Linked DNA regions of Homo sapiens. The protein of the gene in region 2 purifies or fractionates together with the protein of the main gene of each other region. This does not show direct contact. Each region holds a gene or a part of one and is shown on either strand. Other genes may lie near its edges.

Evidence for each region.
Region 1: the proteins of PTPN22 (region 2) and PSTPIP2 purify together in Homo sapiens (affinity purification with mass spectrometry; 2 studies listed by BioGRID and IntAct, with this or other methods). This does not show direct contact.

What each region holds. Positions count from the first base shown.
Region 1 is NC_000018.10:45,982,525-45,994,685, forward strand, and holds the end of PSTPIP2 (proline-serine-threonine phosphatase-interacting protein 2), read right to left. Parts: intron 11,180-12,161; coding exon 11,081-11,179; intron 9,679-11,080; coding exon 9,582-9,678; intron 9,460-9,581; coding exon 9,378-9,459; intron 8,233-9,377; coding exon 8,198-8,232; intron 6,236-8,197; coding exon 6,186-6,235; 3' UTR 6,178-6,185; intron 2,927-6,177; 3' UTR 1,012-2,926; downstream 1-1,011. UniProt on the Homo sapiens protein: Binds to F-actin. May be involved in regulation of the actin cytoskeleton.
Region 2 is NC_000001.11:113,861,710-113,873,870, forward strand, and holds the start of PTPN22 (tyrosine-protein phosphatase non-receptor type 22), read right to left. Parts: upstream 10,004-12,161; 5' UTR 9,915-10,003; coding exon 9,828-9,914; intron 2,569-9,827; exon of another isoform or gene 2,489-2,568; intron 1-2,488. UniProt on the Homo sapiens protein: Acts as a negative regulator of T-cell receptor (TCR) signaling by direct dephosphorylation of the Src family kinases LCK and FYN, ITAMs of the TCRz/CD3 complex, as well as ZAP70, VAV, VCP and other key signaling molecules.

The DNA.
Region 1 (12,161 bases), on a different chromosome or scaffold from region 2:
GACAGAGTCTCACTCTGTTGCCCATGCTGGAGTGCAGTGGCGCGCGATCTTGGCTTACTGCAACCTCCACCTCCCGGGTTCAAGCAATTCTTCTGCCTCAGCCTCCTGAGTAGCTGGGATTACAGGCACGCGCACCATGCCCAGCTAATTTTTTAATTTTTAATAGAGACAGGATTTCACCATGTTGGCCAAGCTTGTCTCGAACTCCTGACCTCAGGTGATCCACCTGCCTCGGCCTCCCAAAGTGCTGGGATTACACCGCACCCAGCCCCAGTTGTGTGTTCTGCACTGTTTCCTGGGAGTCTTCAACAAGAGTAAGCTCCAGCTGCCTGCCATGTAGCTTACTTGATAATGCACACTGTTTTTGCCTTTCTTCCTTTCCCTATCTGGCTTCCCCACTTCCATACTGGCACTTTCTGGAAAAAGTACTTGTACACAAATCCTTATCTCGGGGTCTGCTTCTGATGGAACCCAAATTAATATACCAACAGTCTGTAGAATAGCTCACATTTACTAAATTTAACACATGTACTCGTTTGGCTTCACTCACTTTGCACTCCTTATTTCTCTTTCAAGTGGTTGTTTCTCTAGCTATGTTTTCTTATGGGCCACTAATTCTTTCATAGTCTCTACTATGTGCCAGGTGCTGGAGATACAGCAGGAAAAAGAATAGACAATGGCCCTGCTACCATTGGGGTTCCAGTCTAAAAAGGAAGACAGGCTTTGAACAATTAATTTCAAGGGTGAATCATATCATAACAAGGAAAATGGAGGGGGAGGAGAGATACAGTAGTTGGATCCAACCTAGTCTGAAGGCAGAGATGGTGTCTCGCAGAGGAAGTAACACTGCAATTGACCTCTGAAGGATTAGTACAAAGTAGTTCGGCACCATCTCCATTTGGCTTCCCTGACCAGCGGTTTGTCTTTTTGAAGCCTAACAATCACAAATGTGGCAAGGGATCAAATAAAGCTTGGAAGAGCGATATGGTCAACACAAAAATACGAAACAAATCCCAAATTACCAAGAACCTTTATTTAACCTACCAAACTAAAAGAGCAATAAAATAAAAATATTTTCCATCCACAAAACGGTTTTACATCAACTACACTGACCAATACAGAGAAAAGGGAAATCCCTGAGGAACTGCCAACAATAAATAATATACTTAAAATAGAATGTTCTGAGTGTAAAGGAACATTTCCTGAGCCCGTTCAGTTTGGGGAAATTTGGCCCTTTGCAAAATTCAGTTTCTCAAAAGGATATCCAACTGATGCAAGTTTCCTGTCATGACAAGAAGCTGTCATGTTCAGTAGCACCTTACACGAAAGGTGGGGAAATAGGCCGGGCGCAGTGGCTCACGCCTGTAATCCCAGCACTTTGGGAGGCCGAGGCAGGTGGATCACCTGAGGTCAGGAGTTTGAGACCAGCCTGACCAACATGGTAAAACCCTGTCTTTACTAAAAATACAAAAAATTAGCCAGGTGTGGTGGTGGGTGCCTGTAATCCCAGCTACTCAGGAGGCTGAGGCAGGAGAATCACTTGAACCCGGGAGGCAGAGGTTGCAGTGAGCTGAGATCATGCCGCTGCACTTCAGCCTGGGGGACAGAGAGAGACTCTGTCTCAAAAAAAAGAAAAAAAGATGAGGAAATAATCAATCTTCTTCTGATCAATTTGTCCATAGTTCTGGAAAAGCTACTGCACAGAGCAGGAGAGGAAACTATTTGCTCTCTGTAATACTGAAAAACTGAGAGTGCTATTTTAACTTGTCAATAACTAAAAGGTACCATTTTCTCATAGTGCACAGGTGTTGTACAAAAAGTACATGACCTCCCTGCTGTTTGTGAGTGAAAAAGGAAAACCCAAATATTTGTGAAAGTGTAAGACGGATGCATTTAAAATTCTGGGGTCTAGCAAGGGAAAGATTCTCTGTGAAGACCCAAAATTGAGGACTGGTTTTATAACTCTAAAATTATCTTGAGGAATGGAATCAAAATATGGTATTTCATTGATTCTAAGATGTATTTTTTTCATACTTTAGCATCTTAAATTCAGATGGGCTTGGCCATCAATAGTCTGTCCCAAGTTTATTGGCAACTCCTCGACCCCACCTTCTTAGTGCAACATAAAATAATGGCATGTTTTACAATCAGTGGCTCCTTAAATTAGATTAAACATCATGCTCTGTAGTTCAGCATACACAGGGATCCACATAAAAATAAATCTGACATTTAAACCCTGGTGATTCTCCCAACTGAAAAAGTGCTGGCAAAAATATTTGGCATCTTAAATTTCAGCATGAGCATCACAACTTCAGGAAGGGTTAGAAGAATAGTGATGTGGGTTGGGCTCAGGCTCTAGTTCTGGTTCTGTCCCTCATCAGCTAGGAAAACTGTAAGGAAATTAATTTCACACTTGTAGGCTTTATTTCCTCATCTGTAAAATGAGAAAGTATGATCAGGCGGCTTCTAAGTCTTCCAGCCAAAAAGGAAGGTAATTTTAAATCTTGCACCACTGAGGCTGTGTGTCGCCGTGGAAACTCCACAGCCAGGCTGCCCAAAGCCAAAGGAGCCACTACTGCAGTTGGTGGCTCAGAATCCTCTGCTGCCACCTCTGCTCCTCAAGTGGATGCTCCAAATCCAGAAGTGGATTTCATGCTTCCCATGTTGAAAACCTAATTCATTCATAACCTGAGTAACTGGGAAAGAATAATTCTTCAGAATGGGGCAATTTGTAAACTTCAAAAAACTGCAGAACTCTACTTGCTTATGTTGTCCTAAATGTCTACCATAAATTTTAAATCTCTAAAAAATTATAGCAAGGGTTCACTTCAAAGTCTTCATTGCTGACATAACGTGGCTATAGGTCCTGCTGCTCTGGGTGCCCTTTCCATATCACAGAAGCACTAGCCGGAAAAAGCTCTGGTTTCTGAAAGAAAATAACAAAGAAATTTCCTCTGAATGAAAGGTGCTTGTCAATACTCTCTCCTACCTTGAGAGTATATTCAACAAGAATAAGGGTGCAGGCCAAGGAAAACAAATGGTGAGGAATGGGTATTCCAAGCAATGAGAAATGGAATGTGACGATAACAGCATTGCTTTATGGTAAATAATACATACATTTACATTTTTATACATATTTCAAATTTGAAATTTTTAATCTATCTTTACCTAAACATGTTAGAATTAACAACAGGAATAGCAGCTAAAATCAACAACTACAAAACAAATCACAAATTCCTAACTCTTCTTGTTTAAATTTTTTTTTTTTTTGAGACAGAGTCTTGCTGTGTTACCCAGGCTGGAGTGCAGTGGCGCAATCTCAGCTCACTGCAACCCCCGCCTCCCAAGTTCAAGTGATTCTCCTGCCTCAGCCTCCCAAGTAGCTGGGATTACAGGCACCCGCCACTGTGCCTGGCTAGTTTTTGTATTTTTAGTAGAGATAGGGTTTCACCATGTTGGCCAGGCTGGTCTCAAACTCCTGACCTCAGGTGATCCGCCCGCCTTGGCCTCCCAAAGTGCTAGAATTACAGGCATGAGCCACCGTACCGGGACCCTGTTTAAATTTATTTTCCAAAAGTTCATTCAAACTATTTTAATTGTTGTGATAAGTTGCTTAGTAAGTTATTCACTAAATTAGACTTCCTTCTTTAAAATTTTCTGAAATTCAGTATATGTTGTATACTGAATATGAATGTGTTGTATACTCCCTTTAGTAAAATTTTCTGAAATTGATGTATATGTTGAACCCCAACTCATTGAACTGGCACAGATTCCAGTGAACTCCAGTGAAATGATATAACTCAAGTACATGTGTTGGCACTAGCATCTTGCATTCAAACATCACACTCTTAGACTCTGAGGAACTACAGTTGTTGGGTCAAGTGGTACTATTAAGCTACTAGAATATATTCTTTACCCAAACAAGTAAGAACAGAAAAGAAAAAGGTAAAAAATAAAAAGAAACACTTAGGACTGCCAGTGACCTGCCCATCATCTACACAGTGCTCCAGAGAGCAGGTGCCACATCTGAATTCCAAGTCATTGATTTACCAGGTTTCCACTCTGCCTCTAACTAGGGCCTTGCCCCTTTCCATGAGAAAGAGGGAGGCTTATGAAATGAAGAAGAAATGATGACTGATTGTAAAGACTAGCATCTATTTGTAGATTTGTAGGTCCTAAGTTATATATAGTTAAAGAACAGGGTACTTTATGTCTTCAAGTTCCATATATTTTATAGCAAAGTTGCTTAAATATTAAATATATTAAGCAATTATATTAAGCAATTTAAGGACTTATGTTTAAATATAATAGAAACCAGCTGATTCTTTCCTTTGACTGAGTCTTGCTCTGTCGCCCAGGCTGGAGTGCAGTGGCGCAATCTCAGCTCACTACAACCTCCACCTCCTGGGTTCGAGTGATTCTCCTGCCTCAGGGTCCTAAGTAGCTGGGGCTACAGGTGCCTGCCACCATGGCTGGCTACTTTTTTGTATTTTTTGTTTGTTTGTTTTAGTAGAGATGGGGTTTCACCATGTTGATTAGGCTGGTCTCAAGTGATCCACCTGCCTCAGCCTCCCAAAGTGCTGGGATTACAGGCGTGAGCCACTGTGCCCAGTCATTAGCTGATTATTTTTATGTAATTAGGACAAGTTGGCATCTGTCCTAGATAGCCAGTTGGCTATAAGTCACAAAGTAGGTGTTTTTAGAGGACTGGAGACAAACAATGTTTGATGTGCTCACTTTGGTGGTATAGAACGCTATAGAAAATCACCCTGGAGCACTGTTAAAATCTGTTTAGGTTGATAAATGACAGTATATGTAACCAACACCAAACCAGGAAGGGTGAGAGAGAGGCTGTTGCCTTTCTCTGTTGACTTCTGGCATCCCACCCACCCACTGCCTGCCACTTGGTCTTCTGATACTGTTATCCAGGGCATACAACTAACAAGAAATGCGAAGACGTGTAGTTCAGAAGTGTAGCTCAGTCCACACTGAGATCAGGAATATGTAAGTGGATCAACCCTTTAAAACAGTTTTTAGTCAAAGCAGTAACACATTTTCATTGCAGACAAATTCAAAAACAGGAAGGAAAAATATTACCTATTTAGGAATATATCTCTTCAGACCTTTTCTTAGCTCGTGTGTACCTATATAATTCTTTTACCCCAAGATAAGCCCACTGGGGTAAAAGAATGATACTTTATGAAGAGTTTTTTTTAGTATCGCTACTTTGGCTTCTGAGGCATTTCTTCACATCTGTGAAGAATGATTTTGACTTGGAGAATGTTCCAAGCACCTGAGTGCCTAAGAAAAAGTCACCATGCAGTATATCTTTGCAGCTACAGTTGGCTTAGCAGTGTTCAGTCCTCGTCTAAGAATCCTCATGGTTTGCTTATTCAGAGCAATAATAATCTGCAGGATGACCTCCATGATGACCTTGTGTGTATAATGAGTGTGATATCATTTGCACTTCTTTTTATTTGACTTTTCCTCTTTTAGATGGTGGGAGAGTAAGCTAAAATCTAAATTACTTTAACAGTGAGGATGATGTGTGTTTTGTTGATGAGCACTGCCTTAAATCCAGGTGTGTAATAACTATAAAAGAGCTTAATAAGAGCAGATAAAGAGGGCTGGGCATGGTGGCTCATGCCTGTAATCCCAGCACTTTGGGAGGCTGAGGTGGGCAGATCACTTCAGGTCAGGAGTTCAACATCAGCCTGGCCAACATGGTGAAGCCCTGTTTCTACTGAAAATACAAAAAATATTAGCTGGGTGTGGTGGTGCATGCCTGTAATCCTAGATACTCAAGAGGCTGAGGTGGGAAGATCACTTGAACCCAGGATGTGGAGATTGCAGTGAGCTGAGATCGCACCACTGCACTCCAGCCTGGGTGACACAGCGAGACTCTGCTTCGAAAAAAAAAAGCAGATAAAGAGTTACTGTGGAATAATCAATGAAGGAAAAATAACCTCATTCAAATAGGTATGGAGGGGTCTCCAGTCTGCTTCCAGCTGTGGGATCCACAGAGGTGTCCTGAAGGGACAGCATGCTGGCCAGTGTACCTGCCTCATGCAAGGCCTTGCTAGTTTGTGGTAGTGTTATAAATAAGGTTCAAAGGCTTCAATAGCACAATTACCAGTCTACACATGACTCAATTATGTGAAAAATAAAGGTTCTTACCATTGATTTTACTGATAGAGCAAACTGTAGTCATCAACCAAAGAGTAATTGGGATCATCTGCAAAAGGCAGAACACAGAAAACAACAGTAACATCAATTTTTCATAATAAGATCTCACCCTTTTCAAGCCAGGGCATTTCACTTACAGATTCTGGTGTCTATCCTTTTGTAAAGAGAAAATAGATCTGCCAACAAAAACTATAAATGGTAGTCACGACTCCAAACCAGAGGACATTCTGGAAATCACTATTCTGACTTCTTTGCCCTTTTTCATCCATGCTCAGGTACAGTACCCACAGTAAAATCATCTTTAAAAATGGACAGAAATAGCATCCTACATTACCAAGTGGTAATTCTAAAACAACAAGAAATAAAATACCTTAAATCTTCATATTGTTCAAAGATATAATTTCAGCCACTACAGTTTTTTTTCCATCACTAAATTTTTAGTGAACTGTTAAGTGCAGCATAAACTGTCCTCCTCCCTTATTGATAGGTTTTGGCTCTGTGTCCCCACCCAAATCTCATCTTGAATTGTATCTCCCATAATTTCCACCGTTGTGGGAAGGACCTAGTGGGAGATAATTTGAATCATGGGGGCAGTTTCCCCCACAATGTTGTCCTGGTAGTGAATAAGTCTCACGAGATCTGATGGTTTTATCAGTGGTTTCCGCTTTTGCATCTTCTTCATTTTCTCTTGCCACCACCATGTAAGAAGTGCCTTTCACCTCCCGCCATGATTCTGAGGCTTCCCCAGCCATGTGGAACTGTAAGTCCAATTAAGCCTCTTTTTCTTCCCAGTCTTGGGTATGTCTTTATCAGCAGCATGTAAACAGACTAGTACACTCATTCTCTTGAACATGGATAGGTATATCTTTTCTTTACTCAAATAATAAATATATGTTGAACACCTACTATGTACTCAGAACTGTGTCAGCTGTTGTGAGTAATACAGAAGACAAAGTTGTACCTGACCTTGGGATCTTCTTATTATTCAAGGCATACAACTAATGAGAGCTTGTTTGGAGTAGCTGCAGGGGAATGCAGCTACTCATATACTCTTGACCAAAGACTGGCCCTCCTCTATCAGAAATGATCATCCTCTTTGAGCACGTAGCTTCGGGAGGGATGCACACGGACTGGTGAGGGAGGAAGGGGACACCCGCTTAGCCAGCCGGATGCACCGAATCAACCCTAGCAATCAATGGGCTGACAAATGTTGCAGCCAGACTGCCCTCACATCCCATACAACTAATAAGAAGTGCTAAGATGTGTACTTCTCCCAGAGATATCATAGGCGTTCAAAGAAAGAAAAAGACTACTGTGATTAGTGAAAGGTCTCATTAAAGATAACATTAAGTGACACGTTTCTTGACATCGATGCCTTCTATAAATTGTATTTCTATGTAATCCAAGGGGAACTATATCTCAGTTCTGCTGTTCTCACAGTCCAAGTTGAAATAATCTTTTAGGTAAAATCTGCTTGCAATAAGTTTCTTTTGGTATTTCAGTAACTGAATTATCTTGGATAAGCTATAAAATAGACCACCAATTATCATATTCCACTCTGTGACAAGTAGTATTATAGTAAGATTCTAATATAGGCTCATTCTCTTGGGAATTTGATTCTATTTAATCCTTTCATTCCCTTTATTTCAAAGTTCTAGCTATTTAATTTTAAAGAAAACCCAATATAAGAATTTCGTGGGTTTTTTGGGGTTTTTTTGTTTGTTTGTTTGTTTGTTTGTTGACACAGTTTGACTCTGTCACCAGGCTGGAGTGCAGTGGTGCAATCTTGGCTCACTGCATCCTCCACCTCCCAGGTTCAAACAATTCTTGTGGCTCAGCCTCCTGAGTAGCTGGGATTACAGGCACGCACCACCACACCCAGCTAATTTTTGTATTTTTAGTGGAGACAGGGTTTCACCATGTTGACCAGGCTGGTCTCAAACTCCTGACCTCAAGTGATCTGCCTGCCTTGCAATATAAGAATTTCAAAAGACCTTTTTTAGTGGCATACCTGGTGAGCTTTTAGGAATTGGGAGGGGTCCTCTCCTGTAAGAAATGAAAACCAAAGTATTTTAGATAAGTTCTTGTTATTTTTATAATCTTTTTACTTCTTGCTACAAGCCTATTGTACTCTAATCAGATCTGGTTTCTGCACTGGAGGGTCAAGAAAGCTCACCTAAAGCAAATGATCTGTAGCACTGACCTACGGAAATCTAAGTTGCAGACGTCGTACTATGGCAAGAGGCAGCATGCATAGTGATTAGGAGCACAGAGCCTTATCCCCACAACCCGGACTGGCAGGATTAAAATCTTAGCTGGGTAGGAAAGACTTCCTGAGTGCCTTGAACATCCGCATCCTCATAAGTAAAATAGGAAGTATAAACAGCTCCCACCTCATTGTGGGGATTAAATCAGGTAATTCACACTAACTGTTTTGAACAGTGCCTGACACGCTTAAATACTGATAATGATCATGCAATCCTTCCCAGGCACTCCCCATCTTTACTAAAACTGGAGTGAAAATTCAAAAGCTTAGACTGCAAGCTGACTATGTCAAACAGAAGTTTCTCTTTCCGCAGGATCCTTTACATGAACGGCAGCGAACTTTTTGAGTAAAGGGCCAAGTAGTAAATGATTTAGACTTTGCTGGCCACCTCCCGTCTCTCTTGCAACTCTACTCAACTCTAGTGGCAAAGCAGCCATAGACAAAACCTCAGTGAGTGAGGGTGCTTGTGTGCCCATAAAACTTGATAGAGGAACACTGAAATTTGAAATTCAAATAATTCTCACATGTCACAAAACAGTATTGTCTTGACTTTTTTCCAGCCATTTAAAAATGTAAAGACTATTCTTAACTCACAGGCCCTATAAAAATGGATTTAACTCTCAGGGGCCATAGTTTGCTGACTGGCTGTAAGAAAAGTATAGGATTTCTACAGACTATAAGAAAAGTATAGGATTCATCCATGAATAACAATGATCAAGTTCAAGCATGATATACTCCTCCCTGAACTATGACTATTAAAATCCACTTAATATTTGTCCTAAAAATACTATTTCCAAAAAGCAAGCAGCCTTATTAAGCAGATGCAGTAGTAGATATGTTCCAATTCTAACATGTCTTAGAACATTCATGATAACAATGTTTGTTAAAAGTATTTTTCTTCATATGAAAGGCAGCTGGTTATTACCTTGCCAAGTTAGGCCCTGTAGCCTTTCCTGCTGGGACTGCATTCTTCTGGGAGGAGTAGAAATTCTCATACATGATGGGTGCTAGGAGAGTCACCAAGAAACAGGACATGAAGAGGCAGGCGTCTTTCATCCTTAATGACATCTAACAAGAAAGGCTAATAGAATTGTGTAAATAACACTCCCCACCCCACTGCCCCATTCACCTGGTGGAATCTGTCCAGTTTTGCGTTGATTCACAAAGTATTCAATGTCCCTCTGAATGCTGCACATTTCTAAACTCTTTCGGACTTGTTCGTACATCTAATAAAAAAAGGTCAATTAATAGGTAGAGGTATGTTGAGATCATTGTGACACAGCTCCTTAAAAACATGGGTTTGAGGCGGGGCGCAGTGGCTCATGTCTGTAATCCCAGCATTTTGGGAGGTTGGGGTGGGCGGATCACAAGGTCAGGAGTTCGAGACCAGCCTGGCCAACATAGTGAAACCCCATCTCTGTTTAAAATACAAAAAATTAGCCAGGCATGGTGGCAGGCGCCTGTAATCCCAGCTACTTGGGAAGCTGAGGCAGGAGAATCACTTGAACCCAGGAGGTGGAGATTGCAGTGAGCCAAGATCACACCACTGCACTCCAACCCCAGGCGACAGTGCGAGACTCCGTCTCAAAAAAAAAAACAAAAAAACAAAAAAACATGGGTTTGATAGAGAGCTGACTCTTCCAAATTTTCTTGTTTTCAAAAAAAAAGAACACATTCCAAAGTCCCAGATTCATATTGGAGCTTTTCTCTGATGCACATCTGCTATTAATTTTTTATTTTTTATTTTATTATTTTTTTTTAGACAGAGTCTCGCTCTGTCACCCAGGCTGCAGTGCAGTGCAGTGGTGCAATCTCAGCTCACTGCAACCTCCACCTCCCTGGCTGAAGCAATTCCCCTGCCTCAGCCTCCCAAGTAGCTGGGATTAGAGGCACATGCCACCACGTCTGGCTAATTTTTTTTGCATTTTTAGTAGAGACGGGGTTTCACCATGTTGGCCAGACTGGTCTCGAACTCCTGACCACAGGCAATCCGCCTGCCTTGGCCTCCCAAAGTGCTGGGATTACAGGTGTAAGCCACCGTGCCCAGCCTACATTTACTATTAATTTTTTAAAGATGACAGAAAATGTATCTTTGTGGCAGGACAAAAGCCTTGGCTGAATTTTTTTTCTTTTTTTGAGATGGAGTCTCACTGTGTCGCCGAGGCTGGAGTGCAGTGGCACGATCTTGGCTCACTGCAGCCTCCGCCTCCTGGGTTCAAGCAATTCTCCCACCTCAGCCCCCTGAGTAGCTGGGATTACAGGGGTGCACCACCATGCCCAGCTAATTTTTGCATTTTTAGTAGAGACGGAGTTTCACCATGTTGGCCAGGCTGGTCTCAAACTCCTGACCTCGGGTGATCCACCCGTCTCAGCCTCCCAAAGTTCTGAGATTACAGGAGTGAACCACCGCTCCCAGCCATGAATCTCTTAATGAGAAAATCATGGTGGCAAATGAGCCAGGAGTCAGGTTACATGTTATCTGCATCCTTCTGTCAACTCACTGTATGGCCTTAGGCAAGTCACCTTACTTCACCAAGGGCAAAGTGAACCAATCAATATCTATAGTTCCTTCTACTCTAATGTATCCAACATGCACACGACAATCCTCAGTGGATGCCTCTGACTTACTTCATCACTGGTGACACATTGTTGTGACAGCTGATTCACATGTAACCACAATGCATTCCGGAAGAAGTTTATTCGTTCACATTCTTGAGCCTCAAATGCCTACAGAAAAATAGCTACGTGTACATAGATATGCAAGGAAAAGGACCATTCATTTTGGCTAGCTGTGACTTAAGAAACAGTGTCAACCTTCAGTTATCTGTAAACTTATTGTCCAATTTAGAATGCTTCTCCCCCACCACTGAGGAAACTCATAAACTCATATCACAAAGAATGCAAACAAATCCTAATATCACAGTAACACAAACAGGCTTGGAAATAGTTCTGAGGGTAAAAAGTAATGATGATCCCAGATACCAATGTTCTAACTGAGTTCCTACCGACATTTCCAACTATCTAACATCATCTCCACCTGAGCAGCCTGCCAGAGCCTCAGATTCAAAATGCTGCCCCTCCCACCCTGGAATGAATGAGTTTGACTGGCAAGATGGTCATAATTGTTGATGCTGATTGATGAGTACATGGGAGGCCGTGTACTTGTCTTCTGTCTTTGTGTATGTTTAATTGTTTTTCCTTAAAAAAAGGGTTAAAATAAAAGTCATTGCCTGAGATACAGTATTTTGGATATAAACAAATATCACCTTTAAAAAAATCAAGCTGTTCTATGAAGCAGATGGTATTCTATTCAACAGTGGATGTGATACATCAGTGTATTTTTAAAATATTGAATACCATAGCTATTTTTAACATGAATGAATTTTACATACCATAGCTTTTATATACCACAGCCCCTTTTCCACTCTATGAGGAGAAAAGGATGGGGACAGGTATAGCTATAAGTGGTTCTCATACTTGAATTCACATCAGAATCACTTGGAAGGTTTATTAGCATAGAGATTGCTGAGCTCTACCCCCACAGTTTCTGATTCAATTTCATATCTCATACTACAGGTTTTATTCAAAACCAAAAAATTTTGAATGCCTTTTAAAATTTGCTACATTTTAAAACTTGTTATAAAATAAAACAAAACTTCCAACATATACAAGTGTAGAGAGGTACAGATAGTATGATGAATCCCTATGT
Region 2 (12,161 bases):
GCCAGACTCCCGGGCTCCAATATCCCAAGAAAGAACAAATTAGGGCAAAATTAGGGCAGAAAAAGTAATAAACTACACCAGAAAAGGAGGAACCCTGAAAGTAGAAAGCAAAAGGGTATAAAAGAGGAAGCAGGGTCATGGGGATGGGTTTAAGTTTGTGAAGAAAAGATATGAGATCTAAAGGGTGAAGGTATTTCTTTGCCAACTACAAGGTAGGGGTGTGAGTTCCCTAGAGGAAGTACCATCAAGAGAAGTCAGGGGAATAGTTGCCAAGAGGATAAAGTGAAGAGACTGGGTGCGGTGGCTCACACCTGTAATCCCAGCACTTTGGGATGCCGAGGCAGGCAGATCACTAGGTCAGGAGTTCGAGACCAGCCTGGCCAGCATAGTGAAACCCCGTCTCTACCAAAAATACAAAAAAAATTAGCTGGGCATGGTGGCAGACCCCTGTAATCCCAGCTATTCAGGAGGCTAAGGCAAGGAGAATCGCTTGAACCTGGAAGGCAGAGATTGCAGTAAGCTGAGATCACACCACTGCACTCCAGCCTGGGTGACAGTGTGAGACTCCGCCTCAAAAAAAATAAAAATAAAAATAAAAAAGAGAATAAAGTGAAGAGAGAGCTCAACATCCCTCGTGGGCCCTGAAATAGGGTGGAATGTGTGAGAAACCAGATTCTGTGTGTGCTTGATAAGCTAATAGTAAGTTCATTTGGTTTGTAGATGATACTACCCCTTTCGTTTCAAGAAAGGAGAGGAGAATGGGGATCCTGGCCAGTATAACAAGGAGTATTAGATTCTAGAAATTCGGATTGAGTCATTTGCATGTTATTCTCACAGACTAGTAAATAAAATAAAGTCACTCCCAAAAAAGAACAGAAAGTAAAAGAAAGCACAAGACCACGATATCTTTGCCTTGAAGGACTACATTACTGGATAGAAGACGTAGCATTTTAGATACATTTTAGGGAGAGGAAAATTAAACTTGGCCCTCCTGTGCTAGGTGGGAGAACACAAAGTTTGGCTGTCTCGAGAACTCTGCAAGGTAGTTCCTCAGTGCCTTGCAAATATAGGTCAGTATTATACCAAGCCTCCATCAGGACAGAAGAAGTACAAGTGGTAAGGAATGGCATTAGGAGCTCAGGCTTCTAAATCCAGTAATCAGGAGAACTACCAGTAGGAATGGAGGACAAGACTGAATTGTACGAGCGTGCAATGCAATCATCTTCAACAAGACTGACAAACTTATCGAGGTTAGTTTCCAGTGCAATAGTGGGGCAAATGGGTAGGTGGGTAGGCAATAGCTAAATTGGGGTGAGTAAACCAAGAGGTTCAACTTTAGATACATAAAATGTGAGAAAATGGCAAGAAATGTGTGTGTTGTTGGTTGGTTGGTTGGTTTTTGAGACAGAATCTTGCCTTGTCACCCAGCAGAGAGTTCAGTGGCGCAATCTTGGCTCACTGCAACCTCTGCCTCCCAGGTTCAAGTGATCCTCCCACCTCAGCCTCCTGAGTAGCTGGGATTACAGGCACCTGCCACCATGCCCAGCTAACTTTTGTATTTTTATTAGAGACAGGGTTTTACCACGTTGGCCAGGCTGGTCTTGAACTCTTGACCTCAAGTGATCCGCCTGCCTCAGCCTCCCAAAGTGTGGGGATTACAGGCGTGAGCCGCTGCGCTCAGCCAAGAAATGTGTTTTAAGTGTCCTGTGAGTAAATGAAAATGTAGGACTAGATGGTCCCTAGTGAGAGGCTGGAGATGGTGTTAGAGAAATCAGCTTCAGAGGTGATGTGATACATTTATTCTGGTGGTGGCATTTTTAAAAATTGCACCTTAATGTGCACAAAGGTCAAGAAATGCTGATAAATATGTTCAAGTGATAGGCTGATTCACAGGAATGAGTAGTGTCAATTCATAGATGTTTGTGCACTTGCTCTGTAGGAAGTACCTTGTTGATAACTGTTTGGTTAGTATCATTACTATAATATACACAGAACCAGGATGTATCTATGTCTCCTTTATAGAACCAAGATGTAGCCAGATCTTTGATATGTCTCTGGTCTTCTAATGAATCTCCAGAAGTTGCAATAGTACCAGTCTGATTTCTAGTATAGTTTAAACTGTTAGCACCTAAACCTGGCCTTCAGAACTAGGTATCTTCTTTCTGTTAGGATTCAATGAATCCTTTATATTTAATAAATATATATATATATATATATATTTTTTTTTGACATGGGATCTCACTCTGTCATCCAGGCTAGAGTGCAGTGGCGCGATCTCGGCTCACTGCAACTTTGCCTGCAATCCCAGCTACTCGGGAGGCTGAGATAGGAGAGTCACTTGCGGTGAGCCAAGATCGCACCATTGCACTCTGGTCTGGGCAAAAAGAGCAAAACTCCATCTCAAAACAGACAAACAAACAAACAAACAAAAAACTGAAATTGTGGTAAGTGCTATGAAAAATAACAAATGGTGCTAATAAGAACTTACAATAGAAGATTTGATCTATTCAAAGAGGTCCAGAAAGCTTTCTCTGGCCAGGTGTGGTGGCTCATGGTTGTAATCTCAGCACTTTGGGAGGCTGAGGCTGGAGGATCACTTGAGTCCAGGAAGTCAAGTCTGCAGTGAGCTATGATCAAGCCACGGCACTCCAGCCTGGGTGACAGAGCAAGACCCTGTCTCCAGAAAAAAAAAAAAAGAAAGAAAAGAAGAAAAGAAAAGAAAGCTTTCTTTGAAGAATTGACCACCAAATTGAGATCTAAAGAATTATTAGTCGGGCATGGTGGCTCACACCTGTAATCTCAACACTTTGGGAGGCTGAGATGGGAACCCTAGAGGTTGAGGCTGCAGTAAGCCATGATCACACTACTGCACTCCAGCCTAGATGACCAAGTGAGGCCCTGTCTCAAAAAAAAAAAAAAAAAAAGGCCAGGCATGGTGGCTCACGCCTATAATCACTTTGGGAGGCCAAGGTGGGCAGATCACGAGGTCGGGAGATCGAGAGACCATCCTGGCTAACACAGTGAAACCTTGTCTCTACTAAAAACACAAAAAATTAGCCGGGCATGGTGACACACACCTGTAGTCCCAGCTATTCAGGAGGCTGAGGCAGGAGAATAACTTGAACCCAGGAGGCAGAGGTTGCAGTGAGCAGAGATCGTGCCACTGCACTCCAGCCTGGGTGACAGAGCGAGACTCCGTCTCAAAAAAAAAAAAAAAAAATTACCAAATGTTATCTAGGTAAAGAGGAGTGTGAGGAATGTTCAAGGCGGAGGTAACAACATGTGTGCAAGGCCCTATGGCAGAGGAAGCATGGCAAGGACAAGAAAATGAGCATGCTATAAGAAGCTGGAGAGACACCATGTAGGACATTGATAGCCATTTTAAAAGGTTCTTTGGGAGGTAAATGAAGTTCTATTTGTGAAGCACTTTTAGCACAGAGTCTGGAACACAGTTCTATGGATTAGCTGTTGTTACTGTGGAAAGTAGATGAACAGAAAACGTATATAAGGAAATGCAGATTTAAAATAATCATGGAACATTTTAAGGCTCAGAAATCCAATGAATGAAATTAACATAATAAAGTACTATTTTATGCTAGTTATATCAGAAAAAAAGTCATGATTTTTACCTGATACAGTTTAAGTACAGAGGTTAAGAGGCTTTGAAAAAAAACAGACTGGTTTCAAATCCGGGCTTTTCCATTTCATGGGTAAAAATGAACATAATATTTTCCTCTTGGGGTAGTTGTAACGATTAAACGAGATCACGTACGGCAAAGCACTTAGCAGATTGCCTAGTACATAGTAAGTAGGCAAAATGTTTTCATCTTTTATTCTCTTTTATATTTATTAAGTCTAGCAAGGTGGTAGAGAAGATGATAAATTCATATATTGCAAATTAGAAAAACTCCTTTGGAAATACATTTGGTAATACTTAACCAATTAGATGCTAATAGTCTTTGACCCAGTAATAACATTTTTGGGGATCTAGCCTAAGGATTAATCCAAAAGAAGGGAAAAACCACATGGAAAAATATATTCATATTAGTGTTATCAATAATCATGAAAAACTAGAAATAACTGTTTAACAATGGAGAAATAAATTATTTGGGTATTACTATGTCTCAGGAAGTTTATATACTTATTATCTTCACAGCAGTTCTTCAAAGTGAATATTATTCCCACATTTTACTGACTTAATCCAAGGTCACATAGCTAATCATGGGCATAACTTAAATTCAAACCAAGATTTATATGACTCCAAAGTTTTTATGACTTCAGATGACAAAGCAAGACTACCTGAAATTGAAATTCAGTTCCACCACTTACTAGCTATGTGACCCTGAGCAAGTTAATTGACCTCTCTGTTTGTTTCCTCACCTATAAAATGGAAATGAAAACAGTACCTTCCTCAATGGAGCAAATGAGTTTATATATGAGTGTTTAGAACAGTGTCTGTAAGAGGTATAGAAGCATTCTCTATTATGATTATTATTCTTTCATTATAAAACCAGATGGACAGGCTGGGCGCGGTGGCTCACACCTGTAATCCCAGTACTTTGGGAGGCCAAGGCAGGCAGATCATGAGGTCAAGGGATCGAGACCATCCTGGCCAACATGATGAAACCCCATCTCTACTAAAAATACAAAAATTAGCTGGGTGTGGTGGCACACTCCTGTAGTCCCAGCTACTGGGGAGGCTGAGCCAGGAGAATAGCTTGAACCCGGGAGGTGGTGGTTGCAGTGAGCCGAGATCATGCCACTGCATTCCAGCCTGGTGACAGAGTGAGACTCCATCTCAAAACAACAACAACAACAACAACAACAACAAAACCCACATAGACAAATATATGTCCATGTGATGATGCTGCATCATCAACTATTAAAAATCATATACATTTTAATCAGCCTGATAATTTTGGTATAATGGTAAGTGAAAATATGAGAACACAAAATTGTATCTATGCTATAATTACAATAATATTAAAAATTTACATAAATGGACAAGAACTAGAAGATCCACAAAAAAAGCTATTGTTGGTTTTCATGTGTGTGTATGACAGGGTCCCACTCTGTCTCCCTGGCTGGTGTGCAGTGGTGCAATCTCAGCTCACTACACCCTCCACCCCCTGGGGTCAAGTGATCCTCCCACTTCAGCCTCCCAGGTAGCTGGGATTACAGGCATGTGCCACCACTTCTGGCTAATTTTTTATTTTTAGTGGAGACGGGGTTTCATCATGTTGCCCAGGCTTGTCTTGAACTCCTGGACTCAAGCCATCTGCTCGTCTCAGCCTCTCAAAGTGCTGGGATTACAGGCGCGAGCCACCTCACCTGGCCAAGATCCACAAAAAAAGTTTTGATTTGTTAGAATGTTGGTATTATGGTGAGTTTACTTTCTTTTAACTTTCAATAATATTGTTTTATAACAATAATAAGGAACGTTTGAAAATACCTTTAGAAATTTCAACAGTATAGTTGCATCCTGCTGTTTCTGCTGTGTAGAAACTATACTAACTATGTCCTTACCCTAAAACTTACCCTAAAACTAGGTCCTTTGAGAGACTCAGTGTCATTGGATGAAGTAGAACACTATTGGATAAGGATTAATGTTACAGCTCTGTAATAAGACAGATCTGAGTTAAATTTCATCTCTATGGCTGAACAGCTGAGTGAGCTTAGGCCAATTATTTAACTTCTCAGAGCTTCAGTTTCCTCATTTGTAAGTCAGAAATGACATTTGTAGCTATTTCACAGGGTTTTCTTAAGGAGTAGTAAATAAGAAAATGAATGTTGATGTTTCCTTGACCACCTCACCCAGACTATCACAATTATATTAAATATTTAATATAGCAATTAGTTGTTTAATGTCTGCCTCTCTAAGACATATCTATTGCCTTATAACATAAGCTCCACTAAAGCATGGAGCATTGCATTGCATTCCTAGCATCTAGGGCATTACTTTGCACACAATAAGCACTCAATGAATGTTTATATGAATGTATAAAAACCTTAGATGGGTGGTCAGTGGTAGTTTCAACTACAGAAAAGTTACTGAATTTAGTCCTGGCACAGGGAAAAGACATAAGCAGCATGGCACTGGCTTCAGCTGCCATTAACAGGACTGCCACATCCAATTATGAATACAGTCCTCTCACAGTATCTGTGGGGGACTGGTTCCAGGACCACCCCCTTCAATTACCAAAATCTGTGGATGCTCAAGTCCCTCATATAAAATGGCATAGTATTTACACATACTATACATGACCTCTTGTATATTTTAAATCATCTCTACATTACTTATAATACCTAATACAATGTAAATGCTAGATAAATTGTTGTTATGCTTTATATTTTTTATTTTTTGTTGTTGTGTTATTTTTGGTATTTTTTTCAAATATTTTTGATCCATAGTTGGTTGAATCCAAGGATGTAGAACTTGGGGATACAGACAGCCATCTGTATTGTTCTCTGTACAAAGATGTATGGCCAAGAAGGAAGTGGAGACTGAAATCTGAACCATGGACCTGGGGAGAGGGTAAAGGGGTTAGGATGCTCAGGGAATCTACCTGGAAATAGAGATGCCTTTTGATAATTCCCTTAAAGTTACCACCAGTTAAGTGAACAGTGGCCTTGTGTCACAGAATGAGTCCTCAAACCTCGGAAACATAAAATCCTGGGAGAATACATTAAGGGCTTAAGATGGGACACAGAACATGACCAGATGGAAAGCCCTCTGATTTAGTGGCAGTATTTACCTTGTCCAAGCAAGCAGTCTAGCCTCATTCACTACTCCTCTACTCCCCCAAAGCTCTCTATCTGGTGTCTCATCTGAAACCTTTAGATGGAGCTGAGAGGAAGACTCTATTTTTCCACTGGAGGACATGAGTCAGTGAACAGTGAGGTTACACTTAATCACTACCCAAAAACAAGGTCCTTAAAATCAGGAGCTAGAAAAGCAAGGAAGTGATTAATATAAAAGTCAGGATAGTGATTATCCCTTGGCCAGGGTAGGACAGGACAGGGGCAGATGGGTGTAGGGGACCTGATGGGGCATGGGTCTTCGGGGGTCTGACAGTTTCTTGACTTGGGTAGTGGTTGCACTGCTAATGGTTGCTTTATAATTATACTTAAATGTTTTATGTACTTTTCTAAATGTGTATTATATTGCACAATATTAAGCAGCTAAAAAAAACTATAACAAGTTTTTAAGCAGGGAAAAAATGACCAGATTTGGCTGGGCGTGGTGGCTCATGCCTATAATCCTAGTACTTTGGGAGGCTGAGGCGAGTGGATTACCTGGTTGGACAGACCAGCCTGGCCAACATGGTGGAACCTTGTCTCTACTAAAAATACAAAATTAGCCAGGCGTGGTGGCTCATGCCTGTAATCCCAGCTACTTGGGAGGCTGAGGCAGGAAAATCGCTTGAACCAGGGAGGTGGAGGCTGCAGTGAGCCGAGATGGTGTCATTGCATTCCAGCCTGGGTGACAAGAGCAAAACTTTGTCGCCCCCAAAAAAAAGACCAGATTTGTATGATTAAAAGATCACTTGGGTGTTGAACTGAAAATTGACTGAAGGTGGGGCAAGGCTAGAGGCAGAGAAGCCAGTTAGGAGGTAGCTGCTATATTTTGGTGAGAAATTATAATGACTTTAGCTGAGAAAAGGTAAAATATTAGGGATATAGTCTACATTTTTTTTTTTTTGAGACAGAAGTTCGCTCTTGTTGTCCAGGCTGGAGTGCAACAGCTCTATCTCAGTTCACTGCAACCTCTGCCTCCCGAGTTTAAGCGATTCTCCTGTGTCAACCTCTTGAGTAGCTAGGATTACAGGTGCCTGCCACCACGCCCAGCTAATTTTTGTATTTTTAGTAGAAATGGGGTTTCATTATGTTGGCCAGGATGGTCTCAAACTCCTGACCTCAGGTGATCCACCCGCCTCGGCCTCCCAAAGTGCTGGGTTTACAGGTGTGAGCCACTGCCCCCGGCCAGTCTACATTATTTTAAAAAACACAACCAAAATAAAACAGAGGCCGGCACTGCCCCTCAGCTCACTTTTTACATCTATGCCTTGGGTTACCTTGGCTTAGGAATTATAGTCCAGGGGCAGGGACATGTATACACATGTGCTAGAACTTCCTACTTATCTCCTTTCAGGTAACTCTACCAGAGGGGCTCAGACTGATCAGCCAGTGGCAGTGAGAGCACATTTTTCATAGTACCACAAGATTATCCATGTTGAGCTGACATCGGAGTTCCTATCATAATATCTAATCACTCAATAATATCTAATTACTCAAGACTTTCAGAGTGTTTTCACATCTGCTATCCGGTACCAGAGTGTTAGCTCCAGGAGGCAAAGGTTTTGGTTCTTTTTGTTCACCGCTGTATTTTTAGTGCTTAGAACTGAACTTGGTACATACTAAGTGCTCAATAAATGGTACTCAATAAATGACCACATTTAATGATTGTTATTGATATTTAATCATCACAACAATCCTGTGAGGATAGGTAGGACATGTATTATTATCCCCATTTTATAAGTTAGAAAACAGAGAGATTTAAGAACATGTCAAATACTTCATAATTTGGTGAAAAAAAATCATGATTTAATTTCAGGTTTGTACTTCAGTTCCCCTCTTTCCACCCATTTCTTCACAACTGAAGAGCTAAGGTTTAAAATTCTTATATCTCTGAAACGCCAGCTGTAAGCATTCTAAAATACATGATAGGTACTATTAGACACCCTATGTTATCTGATATCTCAGCTTGTAGGGTGAATGAGGCCTACCCAGCTGCCATTGCATCAATAATCACAGTTCTCTCAAAGGAGATTCACTGTTCTTCTGGGTAATCTAATCCACCCAACCTGAAGCTACCTTGTACTCATGTTTCTCTCCTTGACCTACACTTGTCTCTACTCTCCATCCTAGCCATTCCACTTCTCCAAGCAAAAGAAGTTAAGGAAGCCCTGTTATTGAAAAAACACATGTTATAATATATTTTTCATATGAAAAAGAAAAGAAAAATGATGGCCAGACATAGTGGTTCATGCCTGTAATCCCAGCACTTTGGGAGGCAAGATGGGAGGATTGCTTGAAGCCAGGAGTTCGAGACAAGCCTGGGCAAAAAAGCAAGGCTCGTATCTACAAAAAAGAAAAAAACAATTTTTTTTTAAATTAGCCAGGCATGGCGATACACACCTGTGGCCCCAGCTACTCAGGAGGCTGAGGCAAGAGAATCACTTGAGGCCAGGAGTTCAAGGCTACAGTGAGCTGTGGTTGCACTGCTGCACTCCAGCCTGGGTGACAGAGTAAGATTCTGAATCTTAAAAAAACAAACAACAACAACAAAAAAAACTGTGGCAGTGGGTAGTTTTGGTGCTCTTCAAAAACCTTTGTCAACCAAATAGAATCCCAGAGGGGAGGCTAAAAATGTAATATTGCATGAAAAGTTAACATTGGTCTCTTTCTTCTTAATATTAATTAAAATTAGTAATATAAAGCATAAACCACAACTTAGATACCTGGGGAAATCTGGATGTTCAATTAATATTAGTGTTTTTACATCTGGAGTTGTATATGTCTTCTGTAGGATTCCTAACCAAACTCCAAAGAACTAGCAAACAAAATATTAAAACCAGTAATTTTGAGAGAATACCTGAAATACATGCAAACCACTCAGAGAAGTCAAACTTTTTTTTTTCTGTCTTCCCCGCCAAGGTCTCATATTTACTTTATCCCAAGAGCAATTTGGTCTCGGAAAATTGGACCCCCATAGTCAGTTAAATAGTGTATGTAACTACCCTGAGAGGGTCACATACAGGACTCACCAGAAATTCATTGGCAAACTCCTCTTTAGTAATTTTCTTGCTTTGGGCCTCATCCAGGAACTTCTGCAGAATTTCTCTTTGGTCCATGCTGCAGAGCAAGAAAAATAGTCTATAAGTAGGTTGAGGGAGGGCATGTCAAATGTGTGTCATGGCCGAGACACCTCCAAAAAGCCACTGCTGCCGCCTGAGCAGAGCATGCTGAAGGCTGTGGTTTACTGACTTCATCACAAGCCCTAGAGGAAATTAGTACGTAACCACCTTCTGTGGTCACATAACACAGCCATCATCTCACTCCAGGGCCCTAGTGCCTTCCTTCTCAGCAAAGGAACCTGGTTACAATTCAAATTTTTAACAAACAAGAGGCTAACTAGAACGTAAAGTGTGGTCTGCTTAACTGAGATTATTCCATTCCATCACCCATATGCAAAACTCACCTTTCTTCTTGCCTCCCAGAGAAAGAACAGAATTACAGGTCTCCTGAATGAGTTCTGTCTCTCCCCATTTTCCCAGTGAGCACAAGGGCCAAGTTGACACCTTCTGTTTCCTTATGTCCCAAATGAACTCTGCAAAGTTCAGTTAGGCCCAGGAAAGAAGACAGACACTGTTTAGAGTGAGTGACATGTCTTCTACCCGGACTGTTCATCGAAAGGTTTCTTGTCAGTGTGATCAATGAGAAACTTCTGTTCATCACAGAAGGTATTTTTATTCATAACTTTTAAGTCTGCTATATATACCTCAAACTCCCTTTTGAATGAAGCAAAGTCAGATGCTTCTGACAGTCTGTGTCTCTCCCAGGACTGGGGAAGTGCTGACCTCCATTAAGGGAAGTGTTGATTTCAGCACCTCTTCAACCCTCCCAGTAACCTTTGAAGCTTCACTTGGGTTCTGGATATAAAGACTAAGAGTGTTGGTCTATATAGGATCTAGAGCAAGTGGCCCCCACAAGGAGCACCTGACCAGACAGTTAGCTCAATACCCTGCATATGTAATGCTGGTAAACTGTGATGGAACAAAAAGAAAGTAAAATCAACCACCTTGCTGACAACATTGTAACTTTTAGGGCAGAAAGCCTGAAGAACTGTTTCTAAAGAACACATTTCTACTCTGCAACCAATGTCTTAGGAAATAAATTTGTTTCAGGAAGTTATGCTGTGCCTGTGGCATTTTGGCCCTGAAAGGCAGGCTCTTCTAGAAAAACTTTCCACATTTGAGCTTGCATAACCTCTCAATGGGTACAAGTCTACCCAAGTGCCTAATTCAGTGTGAGAACATCCAAAAATCAGTATATCATCTTTATTGAAGGCAGAAGTTCAACAAATGTTAACAAAATTAGTCTTGATCCTGAAGAAAACTGGGAAATGTGTTGTTAGGACTTCCTCTATTTAAGATATTAGCAATCCTTTCTGTTTTGCAACATTATTCAAACTTCCTTCAGGATATCATGATTCTGAACACTGCTTAATCTGAACATTAAAGATACTGCATGCTCTTTACTAAGTACTGCAAAAAAAAAAGAAAGATCATCGAGATATCTTGGTTATAGACAACTTAAAGACAATATTTCAAATTAAGAAACTCAATCCCAGTATACATAAATTAAAATAAACCCTCATTCTTCAGCAATATTTGTTAGGAATAGTATATTTCTTAAATTATCCCCATCTAGAATTAAGAGAGAATTTCTTGCTGCTCTAAGTAACGTGATGTTTACTTTGGCTATTTTAAAACATAAAATATGGGAAATCTTTGATTTATAAAAATACAAAATTTCAAGTTTGTAATAACTAAAACCATGTAAAAGTGTGTACATAGTTAAAGACTAAAAGAAGCAAAAAAGAATCAATTGTGTAAGTTTGCTTTCTAAAATTATCATAATTTTAGAATTATGATAAAGTTTGCTTTCTAAAATTATCATACCGTTTTTAAAATTAGAAATAAACATTTAAAAATCCATTAAGTTGTTCAACAAATTTATTGAGTACCCACTAAATTCTAAACATTGTCTTAGGAGATTGGCATACAACACTGAGAAAGCCAGAATATGGTAAAAACAAAACAAAACAAAACAAAAACATCCTTAGCCAGTTAATAAAGCAACTCAGAACTAAAGATACAGACATGATTACTGATAAAAATTAAAACACTCCTTAGGTAACTTTGGGAAAGAAAATAAAAATAAAAACATTCCAAACTAACTTGCTTAATTGCAGAGTAGCAAAGCATAATCCTAAAAGGAAAATGATTTTCTATGTTTGGACAAAGAAGATAATATAGTTTTATAATTTCTCTGTACCCTTAGAATGTCCTCAATTACACAAAACTAGAACTTTATTA